Linked DNA regions of Homo sapiens: region 1 is linked to region 2. The links come from fine-mapping of genetic effects on gene expression. A gene starts in region 2. The other region holds a variant in brackets. All regions are shown on one strand. Distances are between the middles of the regions. Region 1 overlaps LANCL3 (LanC like family member 3). Region 2 holds the start of XK (X-linked Kx blood group antigen, Kell and VPS13A binding protein).

The links. PIP is the estimated chance that this variant, and not a neighbour inherited with it, causes the effect.
Region 1: its variant is fine-mapped to the expression of XK in whole blood (TOPMed, PIP above 0.99).

Annotation. Positions count from the first base shown.
Region 1 is chrX:37,644,690-37,654,692 of GRCh38, forward strand. All of the region lies in intron 1 of LANCL3 (LanC like family member 3), which reads left to right. Among named protein-coding and RNA genes, the nearest start is that of XK, 36 kb to the right of the region's middle. The variant A/G (reference allele first, on the strand shown) is at 4,812.
Region 2 is chrX:37,680,910-37,690,912 of GRCh38, forward strand. It overlaps XK (X-linked Kx blood group antigen, Kell and VPS13A binding protein), which reads left to right and starts at 4,882. Exons shown (of 3, transcript NM_021083.4): 1 at 4,882-5,297. The coding sequence starts at 5,053. It overlaps LANCL3 (LanC like family member 3), which reads left to right. Exons shown (of 5, transcript NM_001170331.2): 5 at 1-3,554. RefSeq lists a silencer at 4,624-5,003 and enhancers at 4,673-5,184, 5,185-5,694.

The DNA.
Region 1 (10,003 bases), 36 kb before region 2:
ATTTTCCCTGTAGCCCTCCTCTTCTTCATTATCATAATCATAGTATTATTACTTTGCTTTTTAAAACTACTTTTGCATTCATTCAGTATTTCATGTCAGCAGTTCTCAACCTTGACACTCTTTGTAATAACGTGGAGAGCTTAAAAAGGATACTCATCCCTGGGTCCCACGCCCAGAGAGTCTGATGTAATCAGTGTCGGGTGTGGACAGGGCATTGGGATTTTTAAAAGCTCCCCAGGTGATTGCAGTATGCAGTCAAACGTTGGGAACTGCTTTTTCATAAGAGTCTCATTATTACCTGAGGAGATAGGTGGGGCAAACGTAATCCTGTTTTTGTAGATAAGGAAGCTTGTGCTCTGAGACATTTAGTGTCTTAGAAGAAAGAGAATAAAATCATCTAGTGACAGTTGGTGCAGACTGGGTTACCAGCTACTTCTGATAAATCTTTAAAGCCAGCAGTCAGGCTGTAAGAATGGGGTAAAACCTGTTTTTCTTTTCTGGTTTCTAGTGTTTTCTGGGTTTATGTTTCTTCACATGAGAAGGGAAAAGAAACAACTGTGAAATGGTACCTGGGACCAAATGTTTATAACTGAAATTCCATGCTGAATCCCTTTAATGACTGGAGGATAATCATCAACTAGAGCAACCTGCTTCCTATTCCTCATAGCCCAGCATAATAATGATCAGGGAGCATCAGGAAAACCAGATGGAAGGGACTTGCTCATTCTGCACCAGCACACATGCCCCATTTAGAGACCAGTTAAGAAAATAACAAACCTGGCCACACTGGCTAAAAGAGCTCCTCAGTGGAGCATGCAAATATGGACATGTCTGTCTTACATGCAGAATATTGGAAGAGAATTTCTTATCGTTGCTGTGTCCCTTTTCTGGGTAATCTAATCATTTAAATGATAATATGCAACACTTTTGCTTGATGCTTCCTCTCGCTGCCTTGAATGTCGTTGGGAACTTCTATTGTTCCTTCGGTCTAACTTCTCACCTTTTCCAAAAGAAATCCTCTGCTGCAACCAGCCTCTCTATTTTCATAATCCTTTGCTACTTCAAGTGTGGTTGATGAACCAGCAGTGTCAGCCTCAGCATCACTACTGTTGTAACAAGGAGCTTGTTAGTAACAGAATCCTGGCCCCATCCTAGACCTACCGAATTAGAATCTTTGTTTTTTATCAAGAGCCCCAAGTAATGTGTGTGCACCTTGAGGTTTTTGAAGCATTGCCCCAATACACAGGACTCTCCCCATCATCCAATAAGTTAAAAATGCTCTCTTCCCCATGCTTTCATTTACCCACTTCCTACTTGTCCTTCAAAGCTCAGCTCATATTCCTCTTCCTCTATGAAGCCAATATTTACTCCATTCACGTTACTCCTTTACAGTACTACTTTTAGGATTTAAATGAATGCTGAATATTTCATTATTTAAATGTTTTGCATGTCTACTTAGTCTCATTATTAAGATTCCATGTTTCTCCAACCTAGCATAGGCTTTGCACATAATACTCATGAATTATTCAGTTTGTCAAGATCAGTTTCCTACTTGAAGGTTTTTCTTAAGCCCTATTTTGTATCTTTAAGCTTGCTCAACACCTTTTCTGCTCATGATGTTCTCTGGAGGTCACTATGCACTGTAAGAGTGCTCATGATGTTCTTCCTCAAAGAAGCTCCTCCAAGTTTCTGTCTTCTCAATACCTTAAGTAAATCTTTATCTGCTACAGAGATTTCCTGAAAGGCCTGGCTCTTTCTTGTAACCTAGTGGATTCCAAGTGAACTACAACCCCAAAGAGATATAGGAAGTAAAAATTTAACCACTTGTGAATATTGACTTTGTATAAACAATTTCTCTAACTTTTTAATTTGAAATAATTTGGACTGGGAATTTTAAAAAATAAGTTTAATTTTGGAGATGAGATGTTTTACTACTCTGTTCTGGTGCCCATAGGAAACTCAGGATCATCTTCTGCTGTTTCATGTGGGACAGGCCACGTGGTGGTATCTCTTTTGCTGGTCCCAGACCCTGAAGCAAGAGACACACCTCTGAGGCTGCCATCTTCCTGAGTTCCAGGCAAAAGGGAGGCACATATCCTAACAAACTGTAGATCCTCAAACCTGTCTGGAGGCCTGTTGTAAGACTCCTAAGGCTTGGCATGATGGGATGGAGGTAGGAAAGCAGGAACACCACACTCACACTGACTTTCAACTTCTGGTTTCTTTTCTATGTCAACTCATCCCACCTTGAACAGCTTGTATCTCCATCCTGAGTTTATTCGGAACTATCCTTCAAATCCATTGTTTTATGGTATCAATTTTAAGTATTAAAAATACCCAGGAGGCTGGGTGTGGTGGCTCACACCTGTAATCCCAGCACTTTGGGAGGCCGAGGCGGGCAGATCACGAGGTCAGGAAATCGAGACCATCCTGGCTAAGAGGGTGCAACCCCGTCTCTACTAAAAATACAAAAAATTAGCCAGGCGTGGTGGCAGGCGCCTGTAGTCCCATCTACTTGGGAGGCTGAGGCAGGAGAATGGCATGAACCTGGGAGACAGAGCTTGCAGTGAGCTGAGATCATGCCACTGCACTCCAGCCTGGGCGACAGGGCAAGACTTCATCAAAAAAACAAAAAAACAAAAAAACAAAACAAAACCCAGGATCTAACAACCCAAAAACTTTTTTCTTTATTGTTCATGCGTATCAAAAGTCATTTGTCTCATTCCAGTAGCTCTAACTTTAAAAAAAGACATACAAAAAAGTCATTTTGATGTTTATTGGGTAGTCAGATGGCTTCTTTCTCTAGGCAGAAGCCTATCCTACCAACAGGATGATGAGGCAAAGGATTGGGTGAAATAAATTGCTGGGTGAAAACATTAAGTTAATATCAGATTCTTACTCTGTTACATATATGTTTGCTATGATATCAGAGTGACCCTGCATTCTATGCAGATGGGCACTCAGGGCATTTTGGACTCTTGCATGATAATGTTGGTGGTGCTTGAGCAAGGCCTAGGGTGGGAAGTCTAGCACCTCCTTACAGTTGTTTCAGATTCTGTAAGGATTGCCTGTCAGGTCAGACTTAGAACTGTACTTCTGCACTAATAATTCATTGTCACCTTAAGACGCATACTCCGTATATTGTAAAAATGTTTCCTTGGGCTCTACCCACTTCCAAAAACGTGTTTGGGGTGGTTTACAACAAAAATTCACAAATACAGTGAAACCATTAACCATTCAACATGGATTAAGGTTTAAGAGGTAAAATGTTTATAGCAAAACCCCTAGGGTAAAGGAAGTTTCTGCACTAAGCACAGGAATTAACTCTGCCTTTTGGCCCTCAAGACTAAGACAAACTCTCACTTCACTTTGTTAGGTGGGCTATGAGGGTAGCTTATCACTTAGGCCTTCATACAGAGGCGTTAGAAAACTGTGAACAATATCTTCAACAGCAGTTTTACAAAACTTGTCTTTTTTTAAAAAATCAACCTTTCCTTTATATAGAAACCAAAGCCACGATAGTCATAGTTAGAAAAAATAATCTGTGGAAAGCCAGATTTGTATACTCCAGATATACAGTGTTGTCAGGACCTAACCTAATATTGGGAAATTTAAATAATTTATAGCTAATGTATCTTAAGCCAGTGCTTCTCAAACTTTCATGGGCATATGCTACCATCTGGTGATCTTTTTAAAATTCAGTTTCTTGGCTAGCCATGTGCAGAAAACAGAAACTGTACCCCTTCCTTACACCTTATACAAAAATTAACTCAAGATGGATTAAAGACTTAAATGTAAAACCCAAAACCATAAAAACCCTAGAAGAAAACCTAGACAATACCATTCATGACACAGGCATGGGCAAAGACTTCATGACGAAAACGCCAAAAGCAATTGCAACAAAAGCCAAAATTGACAAATGGGATCTAATTAAACTAAAGAGCTTCTGCACAGCAAAAGAAACTTTCATCAGAGTGAACAGGTGACATACGGAATGGGAGAAAATTTTTGCAATCTACTCATCTGACAAAGGTCTAATATCCAGAATTTACAAGGAACTTAAACAAATTTACAAGAAAAAAACAACCCTACAAAAAGTGGGCAAAGATCTGAACAGACACTTCTCAAAAGAAGACATTTACATGGCCAAAAAACATGAAAAAAATTTCAACATCACTGATCATTAGAGAAATGCAAATCAAAACCACAATGAGACACCATCTCATGCCAGTCAGAATGGCAATTATTAAAAAGTCAAGAAACAATAGATGCTGGTGAGGCTGTGGAGAAATAGGAAGACTTTTACACTGTTGGTGGGAGTGTAAATTAGTTCAACCATTGTGTAAGATAGTATGGTGATTCCTCAGGGATCTAGAACCAGAAATACCATTTGACCCAGTAATCCCATTACTGGGTATATACCCAAAGGAATATAAATTATTCTACTATAAAGACACATGCACATGTATGTTTATTGCAGCACTATTTACAATAGCAAAGTCATGGAAACAACCCAAATGCCCATCAATGATAGACTGGATAAAGAAAATGTAGCACATATATACCACGGAATATTATGCAGCCATAAAAAGGAATGAGATCATGTCCTTTGCAGGGACATGAATGAAGCTGGAAGGCATCATCCTCAGCAAACTAACACAGGAACAGAAAACCAAACACTGCATGTTCTCACTCATAAGTGGGAGTTGAACAATGAGAACACATGGACACAGGGAGAGGAACAACACACACCAGGTCCTGTTGGGGGATGGGGGGCATGGGGAGGGAACTTAGAGGACAGGTCAATAGGT[A/G]CAGCAAACCACCATGACACACGTATACCTATGTAACAAACCTGCACATTCTGCACATGTATCCCAGAACTTAAAGTAAAATAAAACAATAAAAAATAAATTAAAACAAATAAAATTCAGTTTCTAATTCACTGGGTCTGGGCTGGGGCCTGGGAATTTGAATTTCTATCAGGATACCTTTACTGCTGGTCCATGGACCACACTTTGAGGAGCATATACCTCTTAGAGATATCAGAGGTCTCAAATGGGCAATTGACAGAAGTTTGAGGACAGATAATTTAAGACTGGACAGATAATTCTGAGTCCTCCATGACTCACACCAAAGGCATTTCTTTATACCTGGGAGTTCTTTTGCTAGTTTTCCCTTTAGCCCTCGTCTTCATCATTATTATTATATTGTATTATATTATTATTACTTTGGTTTTAAGAACTATTTTTGCACTCACTTAGTATTTTATGGCAGTAGTTCTCAACCTTGACCACTCTTTGTAATCCACTGGGGAGCTTAAAAAAGATCCCGGCCAGGCGTGGTGGTTCACGCCTGTAATCCCACCACTTTGGGAGGCCAAGGTGGGCAGATCGCCCGAGGTCAGGAATTCGAGACCAGCCTGGCCAACATGGTGAAACCCCGTCTCTGCTAAAAACACAAAAAATTAGCCAGGTGTGGTGGTGGGCACCTGTAATCCCAGTGACTCAGGAGGCTGAGGCAGAAGAATTGCTTTAATCCAGGAGGTGGAGGTTGCAGTGAGCCAAGATCGTGCCACTGCACTCCAGCCTGGGTGACTGAGTGAAACTCCATCTCAGGGAAAAAAAAAAAAAAAAGCCCCAATGCCGGGTCCCATGCCCAGAAGAGTCTTAGCATGTACCTTATCATGCACCATAGATGCAGGTATCTTTGTTATTTTGAGTGAAAGGATCTAGTATGGTAGGTAGGAAAACTGATGTGTTTATGTGAGGGATGAAACGACAAATGAAAGGTTTGGCTTTATATTCATATCTATTCTAGTTAGGCTCTTTTTGCAAGAAACTGAGACTCTCAAATGACTAAAAAGAAAGGGCGGAGTATGGGGGTGGGTATTGTATGGAAAATTGGTAGGAAGCCCTAAAGGGAGTAGCCCTAAACTGTTAGGAAGAGGGAGCTATAAGGACGAGCTACTTTTCTTTAACTTTCTCTCTTGGTATCATTGTTTCTTTTAGCATATCTGCTGCAGTCTCCTTTCACTCTCTTTTTTTTTTCTCTTTTTTTTTATTATTATACTTTAAGTTCTAGGGTACATGTGCACAATGTGCAGGTTCGTTACATATGTATACATGTGCCATGTTGGTGTGCTGCACCCATTAACTTGTCATTTATATCTCCTAATGCTATCCCTCCTCCCTCCCCCCACCCCACGACAGGCCCCAGTGTGTGATGTTCCCCACCTTGTGTCCAGGTGTTCTCATTGTTCAATTTCCACCTATGAATGAGAACATGTGGTGTTTGGTTTTCTGTCCTTGAGATAGTTTGCTCAGAATGATGGTTTCCAGCTTCATCCATGGCCCTACAAAGGACAAGAACTCATCCTTTTTTATGGCTGCATAGTATTCCATGGTGTATATATGCCACATTTTCTTAATCCAGTCTATCACTGATGGACATTTGGGTTGGTTCCAAGTCTTTACTATTGTGAATAGTGCAGCAAGAAACATACATGTGCATGTGTCTTTACGGCAGCATGATTTATAATCCTTTGGGTGTATACCCAGTAATGGGATGGCTGGGTCAAATGGTATTTCTAGTTCTAGATCTTTAAGGAATCGCCACACTGTCTTCCACAATGAAAAAAACCATTATTTAAAAAATTAATTATTTTATCTGTGCGGTTATGCCTTTAACTTGACATGCAGTTAAATTTGTTTCATTTTATGACTTTTTAAAGTCTTTAGAGTTGGCAATTTTGTTATTCTTTATAGTTAAGTTTATGTTTTTTAACTAATTAAAAGACTTACCAATATTAGAAAATAGAAATAATGTGAATATGCACACTCACATTCTTTTTATTTGTGTCCTTTTTCCTAATCCCTCTTTACTGATATAATAAACTTTCTTTTTCTGGTTTTTGCAAGTTTTTTTTTTTATACTTTAAGTTCTAGGGTACATGTGCACAATGTGCAGGTTTGTTACATATGTATACATGCGCCATGCTGGTGTGCTGCACTCATTAACTCGTCATTTACATTAGGTATATCTCCTAATGCTATCCCTCCTCCCTCCCCCAACCCCATGACAGGCCCCAGTGTGTGATGTTCCCCTTCCTGTGTCCAGGTGTTCTCATTGTTCAATTCCCACCTATGAGTGAGAACATGTGGTGTTTGGTCAGTCTCCTTTCACTCTCACTGCTGGTCAGTCTCCTTTCACTCTCACTGCTGGGTGGTTTATTCTGTTTTTCTCCATCACAGCCCCTGCTTACTCCCTGTTGACCTCAGTTTATGCATGGACCCATTCCTGACCTGTCTTCAGCAGCAGCTGGGATTGCTGACAGCTTCATTTTTTTTTTTTTTGAACATGCATTTCAAATTGTTGAGAGGAGGAATTTGATTGGCATTGTATGCCTTAGGACACTGGCACACCCAAGACTTAGTTGCTATTCGCATATTCAGTCAGTGCTGATGGGGGAGGGGCAGGAGGTGTTTGATGCCTAGAAAAAGAAATACAGCTAGCAAAGACTGCCACTTCCTGTAGGTAGGACTCTTGCCTTGGGAAGGAGTCAGTGGTGAGGCCAGCATTCTGTGGTTTGGTCCTTTTTATTGACTTTTTTTTTTCAAAGAAAGTCATCTCTCCTCTGCATGGAGGTAGTTCAGTCATAGCATGACTTTCAGGCAGGGCCAAGAAATATAGTATGAGCTTTATTGCCCTCTTGTCTCTTCATACTCAGGCCAAACCAATAGGAATATTTCACAAGGTCAGTAAAGTGAATCAGTTAAACTAAACAAAACGGTTTAAACCAAACCACCTCAGATTTGCTTCGTATTTTTGAAATATCTTAATTTATTTTAATTCAATGTAAAAAGAAAAGAATCTATTCCATCCAAAATATCAACAAATGCATTGATCTTAGGGGCTACAACTACAGGAGAGGGAATAATTTGGGTTTGTTTGGTGAAGGCCTGATGGCCAGGGAGCCCCGCTCTGCCATTCCTAGTCATTTTTGTTCCCCCACCGGAAATGCTGCTCCCTCATTCCCAGGATCTCAGAGTGTCTCAAAAGCACAGAGGCCATCTTTGGAGGCAGTGGGTGTGCTCATGCTTGTGCTCCTGTGTACTAGGGGCAGAGAGTGGAGGGATATTTGAGAAAGCAGACACAGGAGAACAAGCTCAAGCCCTTACCCCAGAATCTCAACTCCCTTCTTCTTTCTGTACTGTTTGTTCGGGGGCGAAAAATACTCTTCCTCAGTGTTCCCCACACACAGGCTTTTAATGAACTCTGTTTTTAGTTTTTATTTGCTGATCAGTAAACTGAGGGTAGGTCTTGTCTGTTCCCAGAGATAAAGAACTGCATGCATAACTGGTCTCTATCCAGCCGAACAAGCGCCGGTTTCTCTTTGTTTTTCACAGTGTTTCTGAGAGATAAGAGGAAACCACCCAGACATGATACATGACCATGGGAGGTTTTGAAATAATATTTTATAAACTCATTCCCTATTCTAAGCTGTGGATTCGGGATAGAAAGAAAGGGGGAGGGCACCACATATAGTGTAAGTTGATTTTTTTCTGGGTTAAAAATAAGCAGGCAAACACACACGTACACAGACATGCACACACACACACACACAACATATGAATAAATGTTCAGCTGGGGAAATAAGCCAATTTTCAGTTATAGGCATGAAAGTCAAATAGGAAAAATTTTAGTAGTGCAAATGAATACATCCCTGAAAATTCAGTGACTGTTTCCTACCACAAAAACTTCCTCTGTCATATGGATTCAAAATCAATATTGAGCAGAGCCAGATATATTCCCAGAAGACTATGGGATTCAATCAGGATAGAGTCCAATTAAGTGCATGCCCTTCAGGGCTTTTAGCAGGTTTCTGAGAAAGAGGGGTTGATTTGAGACAAATGATGATGCAAGATTTTAAGTAGTGTAAGACTAAACTTAAGATCAGTTGGCACTGATAAAGACACAAAGAGTAAATGTTTTCAATACCAAATGAAAATTATGGTAGCAATTTGAATGGTTGTATTTAATCATTTAGGAGAAATTTGCTATTAAGCTAAGGAAAGAAGACTTGGGGCTGATATGATAGGACAGTGGGGATGCAGCATAGGAAGATAGGGTCTTCAGGAATGTTAGGAGGAGTACACTTAAGAGACAGAGAGAGTGGTTAATAAAAGGGAAATTTAAGTTGAAAGCCATGACATCATTATTTCAGCAAATAGAAAAAAAAAAAAGAGAATGTAGTCTTACTGAAGCCGAGTCCATCTTACCTACTCTGCATTACTGTTTCTTTCTATCTCTAGGCTCATGAGCTTTAGTTGCTCTATTGTAGACTCTTGTCTATATCTCATCTCCAGTGCTGGATGGTAACTTGCCTGTAGGGAAAAAATATGTCTCATGGTTTCTCAAATTTCTCCACAACACCTAGTGTGGGACCTTACTGGAATAGTAGCTCAATAAATGTTAATTGGCAGAATTAATTAATGAATGGTATCCTCATGAAGTAATTATTTTTCCAAATTAAATGCTAGATTTTGGGAAACCAAAGCTGGATTATATTTTTTCCTTCTAATACCAGGTAAATCAGAGGAGCAATTTATGAATAAATCATTAGAAACTTATTTCAAAAGGAATTGGCTGGTCTAATGCTGGATATTGGGTAGGAAAATTAAATGTGTCAGTTTTAGGAGAGAGGCCAAAATCCAACGGACTTTTTATTGATCCCAGATTCATTCAATCAGACTAAACTTAGATGTTTTTTAGTTTTGGTTAATCTGACCAGTACGTTTCCTGTGCAGGTCTACCTTTTGGGAAGATTGGCTTCATGAGAGCACAGGTTCTGTCTATCTTGCTCACTGTCATATCTCCAGCATCCAGAACAGTCTTGCCTGGAATGTAGTAGAGGCTTAAGAAACAATCGTGGAGCGGAGGGAAAGAGAGGGACGGAGGAAGCGAATAAAGAATGAAGGGAGGGAGGGCTCTGAATTTCATACCA
Region 2 (10,003 bases):
ATGAATCAAAAGCCAACATTTAGCTATTAGATAGATCTCAGTGAAAGGATATGTTCAAGCTAAGTTGATTAAGTTTATTAAACTTATTTATTAAGCTTGACTAAGCTTATTAAAACTTCTGCTAGGTTGAAGCCATTAGTAACCATCTGTAGAAGATAACAGCCATGAGTTTCACAAATACAGCAGCAGTGTCTGCTAGAATTGTGCTGTGAGCCACGAATGCAAACCACATATGCAATTTTCAAATTTTCTAGTAGCTACCAAAAAGGTAAAAGAAAAAGATGAAATTAATTTTAATAATGTATTTGACTTAGCCTTATATATCCAAAATGATAGCATTTCAATATGCAATCAATATAAAAACATGAATGAGCTATTTTACATTTTTGTACTGAGTCTTCAAACTCTAGTGTGTATTTTATACTTACTATACATCTCCAGTCTCGAAGTAGCCACATTTCAAGTGTATAAGAGCTGCATGTGAGTTGGCTATTGTATTGGACAGTCCCATTCCTGTTTCCTAGTATTGATAAAGTCTTCCTACCTTCCTTCGTTGTTATGGGAGAAAATGTAAACAGAACCTGCCTATTACACGAGAGCTGCAATATTTCCCCAAATGCAGCCCAGCAGTACCATGAGCTGCCCTGTGGAAAAATTTAATCTGTGATTAAATAAGTTAGGAAAGTTTTATTATTTTACCCCCTTTTGAAGATTACATGGTACATTAACATATTAAAGATTGAGTAAACTCTCCTGGGTAAAAAAACCTGTTTGACGTTGTTTAGTTGTTGAGTTCTGTGTCTATAAGAATCCTAGAAATTGCCACAAGTGTCTCTCCATAAGAAAAACTTTGTGTTTTCCTCTCTTTCTCCACTCCTTTTGGGGCCCATTTCTATTTATCTTTGTATTCAGAATCACCCGAGAGCCACAATATCTCTTTTGTTCTAGAACAACCACCTCCTAAATTGAAACCAACAGATGGCTTTAAAGTCTTGCACTTGGACATAGATCTTCAGAAAGTACCAAAATATATACCTTCCTCTTATTCTTTCAGAAACGGTGAACACTCTAAAAAGATGTGGGGGTGTGGTGGGGGATATGTGAATGTGTATATGTGTAAACACCAAATACATACAGTTTCTTAAGTAGAGTAATGCAATTCTTGCTGATGTTTTATTTTTATTTTTATTTTTTTATTTTTTTTTTTTTTTGAGACGGAGTCTCGCTCTGTCGCCCAGGCTGGAGTGCAGTGGCGGGATCTCGGCTCGCTGCAAGCTCCGCCTCCCGGGTTCACGCCATTCTCCTGCCTCAGCCTCCCAAGTAGCTGGGACTACAGGCGCCCGCCACTACGCCCGGCTAATTTTTTGTATTTTTAGTAGAGACGGGGTTTCACCGTTTTAGCCGGGATGGTCTCGATCTCCTGACCTCGTGATCCGCCCGCCTCGGCCTCCCAATATTTTTATATTTTGTGTGTGGTGACAATGTACATGCTTTAATGTGTACTGTTCTAGTAATATGTATGAAGTAGCTGTGACATAGCAGTCAGTTTTAAAGATACAGACTATAATTGACTACTGTCAATCTTTAACAAGTGATCTTTTTGCAACTTGGTTTTAGTGGGGTCTCTGACGTTGTCCCCACAAGTTTCATTTTAAAATCTATGCTTAAGTGGCAGTTACCAATATAATTAATTCTGCTGCTGAATTTGGTTCATATTGAATGTGGTAACCCTTATATGTGGATATATTCAAACATGTGGATTGATTTAGATCATCCGTTTTGTCTTTGTTTTTTAGGACTTTGCTATTTCAATATTAAAGATGTCTTTTGAATACTGTAGCAGCAGTAGAATCCCTATGTTCTTGAAAATGCAAAATGTAACATGAGTTGCACATAGACTCTCTAGCAGTAGAAATGGAATATTCTAAGTGCAGAAGTTTGGTTTTAGAATCTGTTAAGGAAGGACGGCCCAATCTTTGAAAAGGTACAGCTTTCTCAACTTTGAACATCTGGGGGAACTCTTCTTGGAAGTCTGAATTTTAATATCTTTAATCCAATGGCTCTAAATTAACAAACATTAAAAAATGGATTTCGTAGAATCAAATTATTAGGGGGAGCACTTTGCAAAGCCATATACTGGTGAATATATACTGGGTCAAGCACCACATGTTAGTTTTGGAATGTGTATTTCCCAGCGAATAGAATTTACTGCTCCAAAAAGCTTTTTTGGCATAAATCACAATACTTACAGAAATATAATTGTATCATTGAAAAAAACAAAGCTCACCTTCCTAATGATACATTTCACAAACTGCACATTAGGGCAATTTCTTACTTATGAGGAGGTACAAAGAAATACTCTGTCAATATAGTATAACTGCTTATTTCAAATTGTATCTAGGAATGAATAACTACTATTATTTAAAGTACTACTGAATTTTGAGGAACTGATCAAAGAATTAGTATTATTAATAAAATTGTACTATTTGCAATATATTTGCCTTGGCACAAATGCAGAGTTAAAAACATAAAATTATAAAAAAAAATAATAGTGATTGGTTGTTACTACTTTAAAATCCTACTAATTTCCATTAGCACTAAATCAAACAGCACTTATCTGTTGTATACAAGTAAAATTTTGAAAGACTCGGACACAAAATGAAAGGCTTTTTAAAAATGTCTTTGCCATAACAGGTTATATGACCTCTTGCTAATTGTTATATTTCCTTAGGGGCACTTTGAGGCTCTTTCAAAGACATCTGCAGCAATTAGGTCTAAATTTAGAGTAGAATATTTTGCCAGATATTTTACTATATCACAAAATGTCATACTACTGTATTTTATAATAAAACCAAATTCTCAAGTATTCTGGTATGTTACATATTAATATACCAAAACATCACTTTCTATAAGTCTATTATTATGTACATAATATTTTTAAAAATAATGGGTATTTTGGTCCTAGTGAAAAAGTATAATGCAATACATGACATTAATCTTTAGTCAAAACCCATTGAGGTGTCTGACAGGGAAATTAGCAATCATAAGCTATAAGATATATATTATTTTCAAGGACAAAATGGCAAATGATAATACAGAAAGACGTGATCACTGGAGCAAGTTAGCTGGTGTGCAGACTAAGAAGGATCAACTTGCAAATGCTCATCAGAATTTAGCTTTTGTTATTGGTTGTTCTGCAGGGGATAGTACTAGTCAGTTGATATTGCTTCCCTTTCATGTGGGAGTTTGCTCACAGCCCACTGCATGGTATAATGAAATCTCTATAAGCAAGATAGAGTCAGAAGCTTAGAGATGCACTTTATGGTTTTTACAACTGCTGTTACAATGTTCTAAACACTGTGATCTTTCCAAATGTGTTTTCTGTATTCGTTTTGTACTGTAGAAAATAATTCGCTATAAACTGGACTTTATAGTGTTTAAAGCGATGTTATTTATTGGCTTATTGCCCCTCCTTATAATACATTTATGTACAGTACACTTAATGTAAAACCTGTGATAATCCTTTGCCTTAAAATAAAATCTAATGCTAAATATTCAGTGTCCTGATTAATAATTCTAAGCTACCAATTTTTCCTTTAAAGCTAACCATGATGTCAAGTAAAACATTACACAAATACTCTGTGGAGTGTTGCTGCTGATTCTGTATTTGTGGCAGTGTATGTATCTTGGCCCAGGACATGGTGGCCTTCTGGGTTCTATAAATAGACATTAGTAATCCTTTTAGGGAAAGGGCCTGCTACCTCTCAGCTGCTGGCTGAATCTGCCCCTTAACTCATAAATGGATTTTCTCATGCCACATAAAAAACAGAAAAACAGCCCACCACATTCTCTCCCTGTACCTCTTTTTTGGTTTGATTCCTTTTGAATCTTTATATTCTATTTGTGTTTACATTATTTTCCTAAATAGAAAAATGCCAGAGATGCCTGAAGATTGAAATCACCCAATTTCAACAGGGGAAGAGATCTTATAATTATTTAAGTCTAATCCCTTTATGGAACCTGAGTTTCAGAAAGATTTAGTGACTTGATCGAGGTCTGAGGGACGGGGGTGGACTGAGTACATCCTGATATCAAGAAGATGGTGGAAAGTTCAATGGGCTAAAAGGAGTTGTGTTAGTCTTGGTATTGGCACACCAATAAGCAGAGGTCTGTCTTGGAATAAAAAAAACTACTTCCTTATTAGGCCCTGATCTTTGCCCTGAATTACTTACAGTTACAGAGGAATATATTTTGTAGGCAGTTTTTCTGGGAGGTAAGGACAGGTTCCTAGAGACGATCTTTGACGCCTTTTCACCACTGGAAGCAATGCTTCAGACCACTGTATTTGGAAGACAAAGGGACATGCTCACATGGCACAGTGAAAAGTGAAATCTTTTCCCACTTGGTGGTGGGTGCATGACAATATACTTGCACTTTGAAAAGCCTCTGTGTGGTCTGGTTATTTTTAAAAGGCCAGAAATGCTGGCCCTTTGAAGAATCACGCGTTTCCTCGGCCCAGAAAATAGACTGGGCTAGAAAGGCGCCCGGACTCCAATTCTGGGCCCGGGTGGTTGCAGTTTTTCAAAGGGATGTGAACGGTTTCCCAAGATAGGACCCAAGGGACTCTAGGACCCAGAGGCTGCGCGCGACGCCCGCAGGGCGAACTGCATCCTTTTGAGCTCCCGCTCCATGGCCTGAGCCGTCGTAGGGCGCGGGTTCGCGGCCCGCCAGGGGACGGTCACCACAGAGACGCAGCCGGCACTGGCGAGCGAGCGAGCAGGCGGCGCACGGAGCGCGTGGGCGTGTCCCGGCGGGGCTGCGCAGCTCGCCCCACCCCACCCCACCCCAGCCAGGTCGGCCGCCCCCACCAGGTCCAGTTCCAGAGCCCAGGCCGGTCGGCCGGGCCCGCGTGCCCTCGGCGGGCTGCGCAGAGCGCGGGAGCGGTTTGGGGCTGGGCATGCTGGGAGCCCCTCGGGCAACGGCCGCCGCCGCCACAGCCACACAGCCGCCGCCACTGCGTCCGTCCCCGGTGAGCGCCGCTGACGCGCGGAGATGAAATTCCCGGCCTCGGTGCTGGCGTCCGTGTTCCTGTTCGTGGCCGAGACAACGGCGGCGCTCAGCCTGAGCAGCACCTACCGCTCGGGCGGGGACCGCATGTGGCAGGCGCTGACGTTGCTTTTCTCGCTACTGCCTTGCGCGCTCGTGCAGCTCACGCTTCTCTTCGTACACCGCGACCTCAGCCGCGACCGCCCGCTCGTACTGCTGCTGCACCTGCTGCAACTTGGGCCCCTTTTCAGGTGCGTGCAGAAGCCCAGAGCCAGCCCCAGGCCGCAGCCTCGGTCCTGTAGCCTGATCTCCCCACCTGCTCGAGTGGAGGGAGGCGGTTTTCCTGTGGAGACAGGTGGCTGAGCCCCAAGCCGGTCCGCCATGCCCCTCAGCCCCATTATTCCAGTCAGGAACGCGACGAATCATGGCATAATGGTTATAAAGTTGGGGCACACTGAATTCCTGTTAGGTTCCGTCAAATGAAATAGCCAACATTCAACTGAAATTGACCAACAAAAATGGCAGTTTCTTGTGGTTCAACCTCATTAAAGACATTGGTTTCTCTGGGGTCAAGTAGGCTCTGACAGGATTGGCTTGTGTTGTCACAAACCCTTGGGAAGTGTGTTCTAAGCTGTGGTTACGGGGACAGCATGTACAGGTGATTTAATTTTAATTTATCAAACACATGGAGCTTACTGTGTGCCAAGCACTGTTCTAAAAGCTTTAACAGTATTTAATTCTCATAGGGAAGTCAAGAAATCCATGCACCATTCTTTTCTCTTGGTGGCGTTACGAATATTATGGGATATGGAAACATATGGGGTTCTAGAAATGTCTTCCGGCCCTGGCAAACTTATAAACGTAGCCATTAAAGCTGGTGCACAATGCACCATGAAAACAAAACTTGCTGTGTGTTAAGTAAAGAAAAACTGTTGGTGACATTTCTGGAAATTAATTTTTATTAACACAAAGCAAGTAGAAATACATGGTAATAAAACAGACTGGCTTATCTAAGGAGTTTAAAATGTGTTGTTTTAGTACCTTTCATCACTATAGGAAAAGCAAAACAAAGGCCGTCCATTTGGATTAGAAATAAGTTTATAATACTGAATTTTAGACATAGGCGACAGAGGAATTTGAAGAGATGGAAAGGCCAGAGAGACACCTCAGCTGCCAGAAAATTCAGCTAGCCCTACCAGGAAATCTCTCTCTCTCTCTCTCTCTTTCTCTCTCTCTCTTACACACACACACACACACACACACACACACACGCACACACACACATTGAGGAGCAAGATAAATTTTACAAAGTTATAATTTTTTTTTTTTTGAGACAAGGTCTTGCTTTATCAGCCAGGCTGGAGTGCAGTAGCAAGATCATAGCTCATTGCATCCTCCACCTCCTGGGCACAAGTGATACTCCTGCCTCAGTCTCCAGAGTAGCTAGGACTGCAGGCAAGCGCCATCATGCCTGGCTAATTTTCTTTTTTCTTTCTTTTTTTTTGTATTTTTTGTAGAGACAGAGTCTCCCTATGTTGCCCAGGCTGGTCTCGAGCTCTTGAGTTCCAGTGATCCTCCTGTCTGGGCCTCCTAAAGTTCTCTCTATGTTGCCCAGTATGGTCTGGAACTCCTGAGCTGAAATGATCCTCCTGCCCAGGCCTCCCAAAGTGCTGGAATTACAGGCATGAGCTACCACGCCTGGCCATAAAATTTTTGCACCTCATATTAAAGAAAACTGTTCCAGCTGACACACAAACTACTGACTTGTAGTTTGCACACAGTCACAGCAAACTTGGTGAACAAATTTCTCAGCCTCCAGAAGCTGCAGAATCCTAGAAAGGAAAATAAACAGGTACACTGGCAGGAGTGGGAGGTTGCTGCTGACTTCTTGATAGCTGGGGAAGAGTCTGGGGAAAAAGAAAGGGAGGGAGGGGAATTTTAAAAGTCCTGCAACCTGGAGCCATTTAGTGAGGAGAGAGTTAGTCCTTCCTAGCCAGGTAAGCCCTGTGGTCTGGACTGTATTCTTGCTCAGTAAAATAAGTGTGATCTGACTTTGGGCAGGGCACTTATCATTTCTTTCTTTCTTTCTTTCTTTCTTTCTTTCTTTTTTTTTTTTTTTTTTTGAGACGGAGTCTTGCTCTGTCGCCCAGGCTGGAGTGCAGTGGCGCGATCTCAGCTCACTGCAAGCTCCGCTTCCCAGGTTCACGCCATTCTTCTGCCTCAGCCTCCTGAGTAGCTGGGACTACAGGCGCCCGCCACCACGCCCGGCTAATTTTATTTTTTTGTATTTTTAGTAGAGACGGGGTTTCACCGTGCCAGCCAGGATGGTCTCAATCTCTTGACCTCGTGATCCGCCTGCCTCGGCCTCCCAAAGTGCTGGGACCACAAGCGTGAGCCACCGTGCCCGGCCTTATCATTTCTTAACATTATCTGTGAGAAGAAAACAGATAATGTTTAAGTGGAGTAACAGGAAAAAGGGGAACTGACATTTCTCAAAAGCTTCTTGTGCTAGATGGTTTGATATGTACTTACATGCCTCAATTCATTGAATCCTCACCATGACATAGACGTAATTGTCCCCATTTTGTAGGTGAAGAAAATGAGGCCTCAGACTATGTTCTCAAGCCTCCTTAAAAAGAGCTAATTATATTCCCTATGCTCAGTGGAAGAAAGCAGAGGACTGTGTAGTACATTCTATTAGTAGTTCCATTTTAAATTAAGAAAAAGTTTGGTCATCTTGGCAATCCAATAAATGATAATACCCTATCATTGCTGCCATTTAAAGTGTTTCTAAACACGAAGAGTAACCCAAGACAAAGCTAATGACATAATATATATAAAAACAGGATGACAAGTATAAACCTGAACTCAAGGAAACATACCAAGATGTTAAGAATAATAATTTCTGAATAGTGGGGTTATGAGTGATAATATCCTGGAAAATATATAAAACTATATAATAAAACAATTATCTACTTTTCTATATTTTTCAGTTTTTACCATAAAAATATTTTAACTTTATTAAGGAAAGAAAACTTTTGGTGCTTTGAAGAGATAACTTCTCAGCTATATATAAAGTTTCAACACTATAAAAAGACCTATTTCCAGAAAGTTCTGAATGGGCCATTGTCTTCTTGGAGCAAAAACAAAATAAAAGATAAAAAACAAAACAACAGGCAAACCCCTTCCATCAACAAGGAGTCACTGATTCTAATGCAGCTGATTTATTTCAAGGAGTTATTGGACCCATGACCTTAGAGCTGAGATACAAAATGTGGTTCCAAGTCTCTTAGCTTCCAGATTAAAAGAAAAGCAGTTTGTTCTTGTGTATTAGCCTGACTTAATATCTTACTGGAATTTCTTCCTGCTGACTGTTTGATTCTGTTTTAACTCTAAGACATCAGCTTTACATAAAGATAAAAATTATTTCCCTCAAACAAAGGAGAGGCATGGTGATTCTTACCCCCTTCCTTATGGATTGGATTTAATAATATTTCTAAATTGTTTTTTGACAGTTTAACTCTTCTTGCCTTTGGATGAGTACTAGCCAAACTCGTGTTTTTGCTAGGTAGATGCTGCGTTTGAGTTCATGCAGCACGATGGCCCAGTTAAACTGCAATACATTACACTAATGATTCTGGACTAAATACTACTAACTAGGCTTTGCTCCTTCTTTCCTTTAGGGAGGCATAGGGAGAGCACCATATTTCATTTGTATCAGTCTTGTATTTAAAATGGTAGTTACAGTTTTTATGATTGTTTTCACATTAAGCCTGAGTTTGAATGATACGAACTTTGGATAATGCCTTGAATTTATTTATAATTTTAAGGAAAATCTTATTGCGCATTATAATAGATACTCTAGCAAACCAGAGCAGGGAAAAGATCTCTTACCTAAAACACAAAAACATTTTAAAAATTCTGTTTATCATTCTTTTACATTTATGCTAATTTTTATAAATTAATTGGGAGGAATAAATATAAATGAGTTACAATTTCAAGGAATTCCCCTCATTTCTTTTTTATTACTGGTATAGTGAGGAAAAAATGGTACATGAAAAATCTGAGCTTATAAAATAAAGGCTAAGAAGTTCCCGAAACCTTTCCAGAACATTGCAAAATGATTCACCATAGTATATCTTTCTATATTAAACTTTATAAAGAATTTAAAATATTAATAGTCTACATTTGAAGAGAATTTTTTTTTCATTTGCAAGGTGCTTTTACATACAGTATTTAATTTCATCCATGGTAAAACCCTGTGAGTTAACTGTCATTATCTTATTTTTACAGTCCAGGAATTGAGGTTCAGTGAGATTAAGCAAGTGGCTTTTCAAAGGTTTTGCAGCATTTTCTATTTAACCAATTTGGGTTTTGTGTAGGCTTACAGAGCATGTGTGTCATGTGAAGATAATGTGGCTTATTGGAAATTATAGTATTTCTTTGGAAAAAGTATTTTAATTAGGGTCTCTGGTACCACAGATTATTTATGCTCACATCAGCATGCATGATTTCAGCTAAGGAATAAGCTCCTTCTGCTATGATACTTGAAAAGTGGGATATATGATGCTTGAAAATGGGATAAAGTAAAAAATAAGGATCAACCTACTGATTATCTACATTGGGGTTAGCAAACTGTACCCCACAGGCCTAATACCCCCATCACCTGTTTTAGTAGGTAAAGTCTTATTGGAACACAGCGTTGCTCACTGGTTTATGTACTGGCTACAACTGCTTTCACATTGCAGAGACAGACTTGAGCAGTTGCAACAGAGACCATGGCGTGTGAATCATAAAATATTTACTTTTTTATAAATACTTCACAGAAAATTTGCTGTCCCTTGGTGTAGATGATACTGAAAAACTACCTTGAGTATTCAGTTTTGATAAAAGTATCTAATTTCTGGCTTTATTTAGACCTCTCAAGCAACAAACAAATAAAAAACCAAAAAATAAG